2 separate regions of the Homo sapiens genome follow, and region 2 is linked to region 1. Evidence: fine-mapped expression QTL. A gene starts in region 1. The other region holds a variant in brackets. All regions are shown on one strand. Distances are between the middles of the regions. Region 1 holds the start of USP13 (ubiquitin specific peptidase 13). Region 2 overlaps USP13 (ubiquitin specific peptidase 13).

Region 1 (5,380 bases):
TACTGATTCATCAGCCTTGTAAATAATCCCAGTCTCCCCTAAGGAACTGCTGTGATATGATTGCAATCATCAGTCTACACTGGACGAGATGTTTCTAGAATAGTAACATTCTAGAAACACACACAGTAAGCTCCCAATAACTATTTGTGGAAATGAATTAAAACAATCAGCCTTTTTTCCCACACCTGTTATCCACTGCATTATGCAGCAAAAACTTCCAAGAGCAAAGTTTGTAAGCAGAACTTGAAGAAGAGCCCAAATCAAAACATGGGGAAAGTCATTTGACCCACTTTCCATGTTGTGCTATCCTAAAAAACTTAGGCCACTTTCTTCTTCCTGGAGGTAACAATCTGTCAATTGCTTAAGTTAGGACCATCATCCCTCTCCACCTTTAGAAGCTATTAGTGGGAACTGCCCAACACTGGCCATACAATCTGAAAATGGCATTTTCAAATAATTTATGGATAACATCCTAAAAAAGGACTGCCGATTGTCACACTCCACTCTGTGGATCTTTTCGAAAGAAAAAAAAAGTAAACAATCAAAAATTAAGTTAGGTTTCATCCCTCAAATGATATGGAGTTACCATAAATAAAAAAACTAAATGTCACAGAGAGGATACTAACTCTGATACTCCAGTGTGTGTCGAGCAAAAGTGCTTTGAAGCCAGCCAAAATCAACCCACAGATAATAAAGGAAACTTTGGAAATGTTGCCGCTCATTTGGACTTTTCTTTTCCCCTCTGACAATAGTCCACATGCTATGAATAAAATACATTAGACCATTGCGAGACCTGCCTCGGTCCATCCAATCCATGCGCCTCCCAATGCATTGAGATCTGCCGGGTGACATATGAGATCTAAAGTGGGTGGATAAAAATAACCTGGTCCTCAAAAAGACATGATAAACGCCAGACAGCTGAGTCACTTTGAAGCCCATTTTGACTTTTGAAAGGGACATTCACCCTCCTGCTGCTTCTCACACATTCACATAGAACCAGGTGAAAACCACCACCAACCGCCCCGGGTGGAAGGCGGCGATCCCTCTCAGCTTCCTCCTCATTCTCCGAGGTCACGACTCGGGATTGAACTTTTAATAATTTATACTTGCGCATGTCAGTCCAAGTGACTCATTTAGAAGGGCAAGGTGGGGAAGGCTTAAGAAAACCATCGCAATCCAGTAGATCCCCTATTTCTGCTGCCCGAGTGGAGGCACCGGAAGGTTTCGTCTGACATTTTTTTTTTTTTTTTTTTGAGACGGAGTCTCGCTCTGTCGCCCAGGCTGGAGGGCAGTGGCGCGATCTCGGCCCACTACAGCCTCCTCCTTCCCGGTTCAAGCGATTCTCAAGCCTCAGCCTCCCGAGTAGCTGGGACTACAGGCTCCCGCCACCGCGCCCGGCTAATTTTGGGGTTCTTTTTTAGTAGAGATGGGGTTTCGCCATATTAGCCAGGCTGGTCTCGAACTCCTGACCTCAAACGATCCGCCCGCCTCCGCCTCTTAAAAAGTGCTAGGATTTCAGACGTGAGCCACCGCGCCTGGCCCTGACATTCTAAAGACAAGAAAAGGAGTGGGGTGAAATGGGAACTGGTGGAAGAAAAGCTCAGAGAGCAAATCAGAATTGTCCAGAAGTGGGGATCCCTGAGCAAAGCAAGTGGTCCCAGAAAAAGAAGGGCTGTGTGTGTCCCGGGGTGTGGGGGGATCATCCCGTCCACCTACCCGCCCTGCGCTCTGCCCCGCGGAGGACGCAAACGATCTGCAACGTGCAGTTCGGAACAGGGAACTCTTGTATTTCATCTATCTTTAAACGGCGGCGGGGCTGTGTGCAAGCTGCTGGGAATCGGGCCCTTCCAGCCTGGGGAGGCTGGCGGAGCAAAACCACCAGCACGAGCCAGTCCTCGGCTGCAGCAGCCCTGGGGCGCTCACTAAGTGTCTGCCGAACTGCAGTGTTCCTGAGCCAACTCTGCCGCCCGGAGGAAGAGAAGAGGTCCCGGCCGCCACTGCGCATCTTCTCCCCCGGCTTCACGTGCCGCAGGCCGCCGGCCCCGCGACCCTCCCCCGAGGCGCCTCACTTACGGGAGAGTCGTAGGAGAAGGCGCACTCGTTCTTGTAGACCCTGTCGCCGGACCTGGGCACGCGGATCGTGGGCATGTGGGGCACTAGCAGCTCGCCGATGTCTCCTGCAGCCATCTTCCTGCCTCCGCTGCCGCCCGGCATGCCGAACAGGGCGCCCCGGCGCTGCATGGCCTCGGCGCGCACCGGAGCCGAGCGAGCCGAGCCGGAGCCGGAGCGCGGGGTCTGCCGGCGGCGGCGGCGCCAGCGAGCGGGCTGACGGGCGGGCTGCGCGGGCAACGGCAGCCGGCCGAGCCGGGGCGGGCGGGGAGAGCGGGCTGCGGGGCGGGAGCGGGCACCGCGGGCTTGGGGCGGACTGGCGACGCTATTTTTAATCCAATGGCGAGTCTCCGGCCCAGCTGCAGCGTCAGGCGGGGCTGGGGAGCGCCAGCCGCAGCGTGCCGGGGAGGGGGCGCTGGAGAGGGGCCCTGCGCGTGGGCCGGGCGCGGCGGCGGGGGGCGGAGGGCGAACCCCTGAGGCGTTGGCGCGGGAGCTCGAGCGGGCTGGCGGCCGAACGCGGCGCGGGAGGGCCCCGGGAAAACACCACGGAGGTGTTTTCTATCCCGAATTGTTGGCTTGCAGAGGGGCAACTCCGAGGAGGCCAACACAAAGAGCAGGATTGGGGGTTTTAAAAACCGCTTGCTTTTAAAACAGCCGAAGACTAGGGCGGTGACGTCCCCGGATTGGATAGGGGCGGGACTCGATGTGCAAATCTGAAATCTAACGTGAGGCTTAAATCTAAATTTGCGCCATGCACTTCAGTGCTTCCCCACTAAGCTTCGTTCCTTACTTTAACATCCAAGGCTCAAAAATAGAGCGAATAGAATAAGATCGAGTGAGGATAGAGGGTGTGTGTGTGGGGGAGGGCGGGGTGTGTGTGGGAGTGTGTGTGTAATAATAATACAGGTTTTCTTACATATTGGGGGAAGTCAGGGATGGTCAAGATTTTTTCAGGGCGTCGGAAGGCTTTCTATTTTTCTCTGCCTTTGGAGTATCTTCTATGTGATTCAAAGTTCTCATGTCGAACATTCAGTGGCCTGATTTGAGGATTTTGTAGGCAGGCATACATATTCCTGTCTTGATCATCAGTTCCTCAAAATAAATGATGAATGGGGTTGGCCTCGGGGGTTGATCATTTGCAAGCAGAGCATGTCTCCCAGCATACTCTCATTCTCTCCAAAAAACCCACAAGACGGGTTCAATGACATTGAGGTTCTCTAACTACACCCAACATATGTATTCATGACAGAGTATCCAGTGATCCCTGCCAGTTAATGAAATGCAGAAATAGCGAGAAATAGTGAACCAAAACGCTAATTTTTGTAAGCCTCTCTCAGATCAGATAGTCCTTAAGTTCTTTTTTTTTTCTTACTTTTTTTCTCTTTTAACTCTCCCTGGTTCTCCAGACCTATCTCAAGATTTCCATACCCTCAAGCAAGCCTCGAGCGCACCACACTTTCTTATAACTCAGCACTCCCAAATGCTATCTGTTGGAAAAGGAGGAGGTGGCACTGAGCAAAAAATCAGACACTACTGTCATCTTCCTCATTGGGCAGATCCTCTCAGCGAGCTTTTGCTTTGAATTTAGTCTCATCAGCTTATTACCTTTCACGTTAATGGATGATGTTTTCTCCAATTACAGAGATAAACTTGGTTTTACAAAACTTAAAATTTAATCTTAGATTAAATACAAATTAAATCAGTGAGACACTGTTTTTCATCCTTTGGGCTGGTAAAGATATATTGAGTTAGCATGGGTTTGGGAAGTAGACCCTCATTACATTGTTGGTGGGGATAAAAACGATAAACCTCTTTGGAAGGAAATGTAATAATACCAGTCATAACTTTATATGTGCATACTGTTTTCCCCAGCATTTCCTTGTCTAGACATTTATGCAACAGATAAATTAAGGCTGTGTAAAGATATTTGTTAGAGCACTGTTTCGAGTAACAAACGTCTGGGGAAAACCTAAAGATCCTTCTGTAGAAAGTGGTTAAAATACAGTACCATTGAAAAGAATGAAGTTGCTCTACGTGTGCTGATGTGGAACAATCTCCAAATTATTACTAGATGATAAAAGCAATTTAAGCAAACTAGTGTATAAAAGCAAGGAATACATGCAAGGCTGATAATATGCAGTAGGCATTTTGGCACATCCTATATACCATGGGCCTTCATTCCAGTTGGTTGTACTTGTAGTAAATATTTTTAATGTAGCCCCTTAAAATATACATATGTGTATGCATGCCCACTTGTTTGGCTTTAGGATGTCTCTAGAGCAATACACAAGAAACTAGTCAGGCTCTGTGGAGAAGAACTGAAAGCCTGAGGTTAAGGGAGAACTTACTACCTGGTATGGTAGGGCTGTGTCCCCACCCAAATCTCATCTTGAATTCCCACGTGTTGTGGGAGAGACCCAGTAGGTGGTAATTGAATCATGGGGGCAGGTCTTTCTCGTGCTGTTCTTGTGATAGTGAATAAGTCTCACAAGAGCTGATGGTTTTACAAACGTGAGTCTCCCTGCACAAGCTCTCTCCAGTTGTCTGCCTCCATCTGAGACGTGCCTTTCACCTTCCACCATGATTGTGAAGCCTCCCCAGCCACATGGAACTGTAAGTCCAATAAAACTTTCTTTTGTAAATTGCCCGGTCTCAGGTATGTCTTTGTCAGCAGCGTGAAAACAGATTACTACACTACCACTTTGTAGCTTTCTGTATGATTCCATTTGTATTATGTGCAAGTATTGCTTTTTCCCCCCCTTTCTTTTTGGAGATGGAGTCTCCCTCTGTCGCCCAGGCTGGACTGCAATGGCGCGCTCTCAGCTCACTGCAACCTCCGCCTCCTGGGTTGAAGCGATTCTCCCGCCTCAGCCTTCCAAGTAGCTGGGACCACAGATGCACGCCACCACGCCAGGCTAATTTTTTGTTGTTTTTTTTTTTTTTTTTTTGTAGAGACGGGGTTTCGTCACGTTGGCCAGTCTGGTCTCCCACCTCGGCCTCCCAAAGTGCTGGGATTACAGGCGTGAGCCACCGCGCCCGGCCTCAAGTATTGCTTTAAAAGTTAATTAAAACTCAGCCATCGCTCTCCAACACCAGCGCCGCCTGTCACTCGCCACGCTCCAGCAGAAGAACGGGTCTAAGTAAGGAGGTCACTATACCATGGCTGGTACAAAGCTGACTGCCCAAAAATCAATTGGTGGTAAAGAACCCAGGAAGCAATCCCAGCACTTTGGGAGGCCGAGGCGGGTGGATCACGAGGTCAGGAGTTCAA
Region 2 (5,380 bases), 20 kb before region 1:
GGTGGTAGACAGCTCTATTAAATTAAAATAGATTACAGGCTGGGCACAGTGGCTCAAGCCTGTAATCCCAGCACTTTGGGAGGCCAAGATGGGCAGATCACTTGAGGCCAGGAGTTCCAGACCAGCCTGGACAACATGGTGAAACCTCATTGCTACTAAAAACACAAAAATTAGCCAGGCGTGGCGGAACACGCTTCTAGTCCCAGCTACTCAGGAGGCTGAGGCAGGAGAATTCCTTGAACCCGGGAGGCAGGGGTTGCAGTGAGCTGAGATCATGCCACTGCACTCCAGCTTGGGCAACAGAGCGAGACTCCATCTCAATAATAATAATAATAATAATAATAATAAAATAGGTTACAGATAAAACTCATATAGCATTGGGTAAATTTTTTTAAAATATTAATGGTAGCATAAGAATGGAGGCCCCACAAATATATTCATTCTAAGATAACTATTTAATATATGTCAAATCACAGGAGATACAAAAATGCAGAAAAGAATCACCAATAAAAGTTACTAGGAAAATTAACATCAGTATAGAAGAAAATTAACCTAGATCTACAACTTATACGAAACATGGTAATAAAGTCCAAATAGATCCAAGAAATAAGCAATTACAAAACTAAAAAGAGCAGACTCATATATTCAGCCCACTTTTAAAAGGGAATGTCAACATTCAAGTTCAACTTAAGAAATTTTTTTTTTTTTTTGAGATGGAGTGTCACTCTGTCGCCCAGGCTGGAGTACAGTGGCGTGATCTCTGCTCACTGCAAACTCCACCTCCCGGGTTCACACCATTCTCCTGCCTCAGCCTCCCGAGTAGCTGGGACTACAGGCGCCCGCCACCATGCCTGGCTAATTTTTTGTATTTTTAGTAGAGACAGGGTTTCACCGTGTTAGCCAGGATGGTCTCAATCTCCTGACCTTGTGATCGATCCACCTGCCTCGGCTTCCCAAAGTGCTAGGAAAGAATTTTTTAAAAAACCATTTAGTTTCCAATGTGAGAAAATATTAAAATCAAACCATCACATCCTCACAACCCCCTTAAGTAGGCATATTAAAACAATCTCAAGGCACAGGTACATGCCTCATAAACCAGCAAAAACTGTTAAAATTGCACAGCCTGAAGCCACAGAGAAAACCCGTATATCCTCTCCTACAATATAAATCGGCTCAGCCTTTCTAGAGAGCAAAAAAACAGTGACCCTTTGGCACAGTATTTCCCCTCTGGGTACAGGCCCGAGAGAAGAATTAAAAAAAAAAACTAATTTGTGCAAAAATATTCACACATGCAGTATCTATAATAAAATAATGTAGCAATGGCCCCAAATAGAGGAGTTAAGAAACTGTGACATATAAGCACAAGAAAATACTGCAACATTATTTAAAAAGACAAAGTTATGAATTGTGTGTAATGAGTCTTGCTTGGTCTACAGTGGTGCTTCTCCAACTATTGTCACGATGGATGAGGTTGTTTTTGTTTTTTGTTTTGTGTTGTTTTCATTTGTTAAGGAAAGACACATGTTCCCACTGCACATGACTAGTTCAAAGCTCCAGCCAGATATGGTCTTACTCACCACACACCTTAAGTTCCACAAAACCCAAACTGGTCTATGTCCTGGGCAAACAGATCCACTGGTCACACACTTGGCTGTGGCTGCAATGTCAAGTTGCTATACAAATCTCAAAACAGGCCGGGCGCAGTGGCTCACACCTGTAATCCCAACACTTTGGGAGGCTGAGGCGGGTGAATCACCTGAGGTCAGGAGTTCGAGACCAGCCTGGCCAACATGGAGAAACCCCGCCTCTACTAAAAATACAAAATTAGCCGGGCGTAGTGGCACATGCCTGTAATCCCAGCTACTCAGGAAGGCTGAGGCAGGAGAATCGTTTGAACCCGAAAGGCGGAGGTTGCGGTGAGCCAAGATCGCGCCATTGCACTCCAGCCTGGGCAACAAGAGCGAAACTCCGTCTCAAGAAAAAAACGAAAGAAAGAAATCTCGAAACACTACTCTTAGTGTTGTACTCATCTCTCAGCCCAGTCAGCTGACACACTTTAGGTAGCACTTGTCTAGGGCTAGGTGAACTCGGCCCAAGTCTAAGAGTGTCT[C/T]ACCCGCCAGGAAAGCATTATCTAAAAGACTTTCAGGACACAAGGTCAGGCCTGCAGCCTTCACAGCAGCCCCATCAATGCCTCCTCACTGCAGGCGCTTCCCAAACGCCACACTCTGCCAGTCTCTGCCCAGGAACTACTCCCACATCTCCCTGCTCAGCCCCTCTTCTGACAGTCCTTGACCCTAAATCTGCTTTCATTTCACAATCAGTGTCATGCTCATTGAAATCTATCGCTATGAGAAACCCAGGCTTCCTTGAGTTTGCCGCCAGTACCTTTAGAAGCTGAAATACACATTTGCTCCTTGAAGGCAGGAAAATTGTATCATTTATTGCTGAATCCTAAAAATAGTACCTGGTACAGGGCAGGGGGGGCAGGAAAACTGTGTCATATTCACCACTGAATCCCAAAAACAGTACCTGCTACAGGGCAGGATTGAACAAACTTTTGTAGGATGAATGATAGTTTTTGTCTCCACTATTTGTTATTGGGTCTCTCTCTCTCAAACTATTCCTCAGTGCCCTTCTGATCTGAATTTAAAATGCATCATAATACAGCTTCCACTTAAAGTCTCTGGCACGACTAAACAATGGGAATTCTCAAAATAAAACTCATGGCCACGCATAGAAAAACAGCCTGAGGCACCAGCAGAAATTCTAGCTTTTCAGGTTTGTTTGGCTGAAGTCACTCTTAGCAGCCTGGACACTTGAACCCTACTGCCCCAGCTCTCCCACCTGCTGTAACCAAGCCAGTCTCACATGGTTCTTCAGGAAAGTGGCTGCCTTCTCTGCACCACCGTCCCACCTTGGATCCTACCTGCCTCCGGTGCTCAGAGGACACCCAGCCCAGAATGACCAATGTGCAGTTCTGTGCACAATCCTAAGCTAAATAGGATTCTAATGATCATTTTTATGATGCACTAACCAGAAATTTGACCAAGATGCAAGACTTTGACATCCAAAATCAGAAGAAAGTCAAGAAATACTGCACAGGGCTCTATAATGATTTCCCTTGACAACTTCTCCAGCCCCATAATCAAACGGTAAGAAAGGAGCAGCACTGGCCGGGTTCAGAGGCTCACGCCTGTAATCCCATCACTTTGGGAGGCAGGTCAGGAGATCAAGCCCATCCTGGCCAACATGGTGAAACCCCATCTCTACTAAAATACCAAGAAATTAGCCGGGAATAGTGGTACACACCTGTAGTCCCAGCTAACAAAAAAATTAGCCGCGCATGGTGGTACACACCTGTAGTCCCAGCTATTCAGTAGGCTGAGGCAGGGGAATTGCTTGAACCCGGCAGGCAGAGATTGCAGTGAGCCAAGATCGCGCCATTGCACTCCAGACTGGCAACAGAGCGACACACTGTCTCAAAAAAAAAAAAAGAAAAAAAAAGAAAAAGAAAGGAGCAGCATTAGAAGCCCCATGTATTGTTAAAATCCTGTCTTCAATGCATTTCAATATACATACAGTATATACTTAGCCATTCATTTGCTACTTTGTATTGTATCCCTCTATGTACTATTCAGAAATAACATCAAAGACAAAGTCACTGATTTTATATTGCCTGCCGTTTAAAAGAATGTTAAAACGGTGGCAAATATAAAGGTCAAGATTGCAACATGTTTCAGAGTAGCAAGTGAATAGTCATTTTAAATAAAAATACACTACTTTGTCAATCGGTAGGTGTTCAGAGAACTTTGTTTATGATGATGTTTTCTTGGCAACCAGCCTTCCCACTGGAAGACAGGAAGGGAGCATGAGCTTATGTGAGCAACGCGCTCAGGAAACAGTCGCTGCGTAACACTTGTTTTTATAACTACAGAACAGTGTCTCCTGTGGAAAACAAGCGGTCATTGCTGCAAAGAGAAACATGATGTAGGTAGATGGAGTCACAACAAATCCACGCCAGGACAAATCACATACTAACACCGCGGGAAGACGGTGACTCACACACCCTTGGAAAAGGAAGGCCAAGAAGACCAGAACACCGTATTTTCTAGAACATCGACTCAAAAAAGAGCGGACAGGAAAAAAAAATTAACCAAATGAGCTGCTTGTAATTATAAAAAGAAGTAACCCAAATGGCCAAGAACAGATTTGCCAAATAATTTATGGTACCTCCATGAAATGTAACACTCTTCAGCTATTTAAAATTGACTTGTGGATGAGTATTTACTGATAGAAAAATAAGTACATAGTATTTTTGGGCTAAGAAAGCAGGTAACAAAACACTGTGTATGATGTTATAATATACATGACATGCACACTCTTCCTGGCGTATGTTGTTATCTCAGCATGGGGAGACAATGTGGGAATTTTTTTTCTTCCTGTTTTCTTCTGGTATTTTTAAATTTCTCTTCAGGAACATAGATTCATTTTTTAATTAAAATATAAATAAAAGTTTTTTAACTGAATGTATTTAGATATGCTCCCTTTTCTCAAACCTGGCTTCCCAACCACACAGCTTTATGGGGGCTGTATATTCCCACTACTCAAAGTAAAGCATGGTGGCAATAACTTGAGATTTTAATTTTTTATCTTTGAGAGAGTCTCACTCTGTTGCCCAGAAATGCAGTGGAGCCATCTCTGCCTCCCGGGTTCAAGGGTTTCTCCTGCCTCAGCCTCCCAAGTAGCTGGGATTACTGGTGCCCACCACCACACCTGGTTAATTTTTGTATTTTTAGTAGAGACGGGGTTTCGACATGTTGTCCAGACTGGTCTCGAACTCCAGATCTCAAGTGATCCACCCATCTTGGCCTCCGAAAGTGCTGGGATTGGCCGGACATGGTGGTTCACACCTGTAATCCCAGCACTTTGTGAGGCCGAGACAGACGGATCACCTGAGGTCAGGAGTTCGAGCCAGCTTGGCCAACATGGTAAAACCCCGTCTCTACCAAAAATACAAAAATTAGCCAGGCATGGTGGCACACACCTGTAATCCCAGCTACTCGGGAGGCTGAGGCAGAAGAATCGCTAGAACCCAGGAGGCAGAGGTTGCAGTGAGCGGAGATCATGCCACTGCACTCCAGCCTAGGTGACAGAGCGAGAATCTGTCTCAAAAAAAATAAAAAAATAAAAAAATTGCTGGATTACAGGCATGAGCCACTGCGCCCGGCCAATAATTTGATATTAATAAGAGAATATCTTGAGATTTGTAGCTGAGGAAATTCAGGAACAAGTAAAATAGAGGTGATACGGCGTGTAACCTCAGGGAGGCAAATGAGACTGTGATTACAACTGGGAAAAATGAAACTAATCGGGAACACTG

The links. PIP is the estimated chance that this variant, and not a neighbour inherited with it, causes the effect.
Region 2: its variant is the best candidate, but not a certain one, in a credible set for the expression of USP13 in thyroid (GTEx, PIP 0.67).

What each region holds. Positions count from the first base shown.
Region 1 is chr3:179,650,087-179,655,466 of GRCh38, reverse strand. USP13 (ubiquitin specific peptidase 13) reads right to left here and starts at 2,427. Exons shown (of 21, transcript NM_003940.3): 1 at 2,074-2,427. The coding sequence starts at 2,241. It also overlaps the pseudogene H3P13. RefSeq lists an enhancer at 1,954-2,597 and silencers at 2,266-2,605, 2,616-2,695.
Region 2 is chr3:179,670,505-179,675,884 of GRCh38, reverse strand. All of the region lies in intron 1 of USP13 (ubiquitin specific peptidase 13), which reads right to left. Among named protein-coding and RNA genes, the nearest start is that of USP13, 20 kb to the right of the region's middle. The variant C/T (reference allele first, on the strand shown) is at 2,111.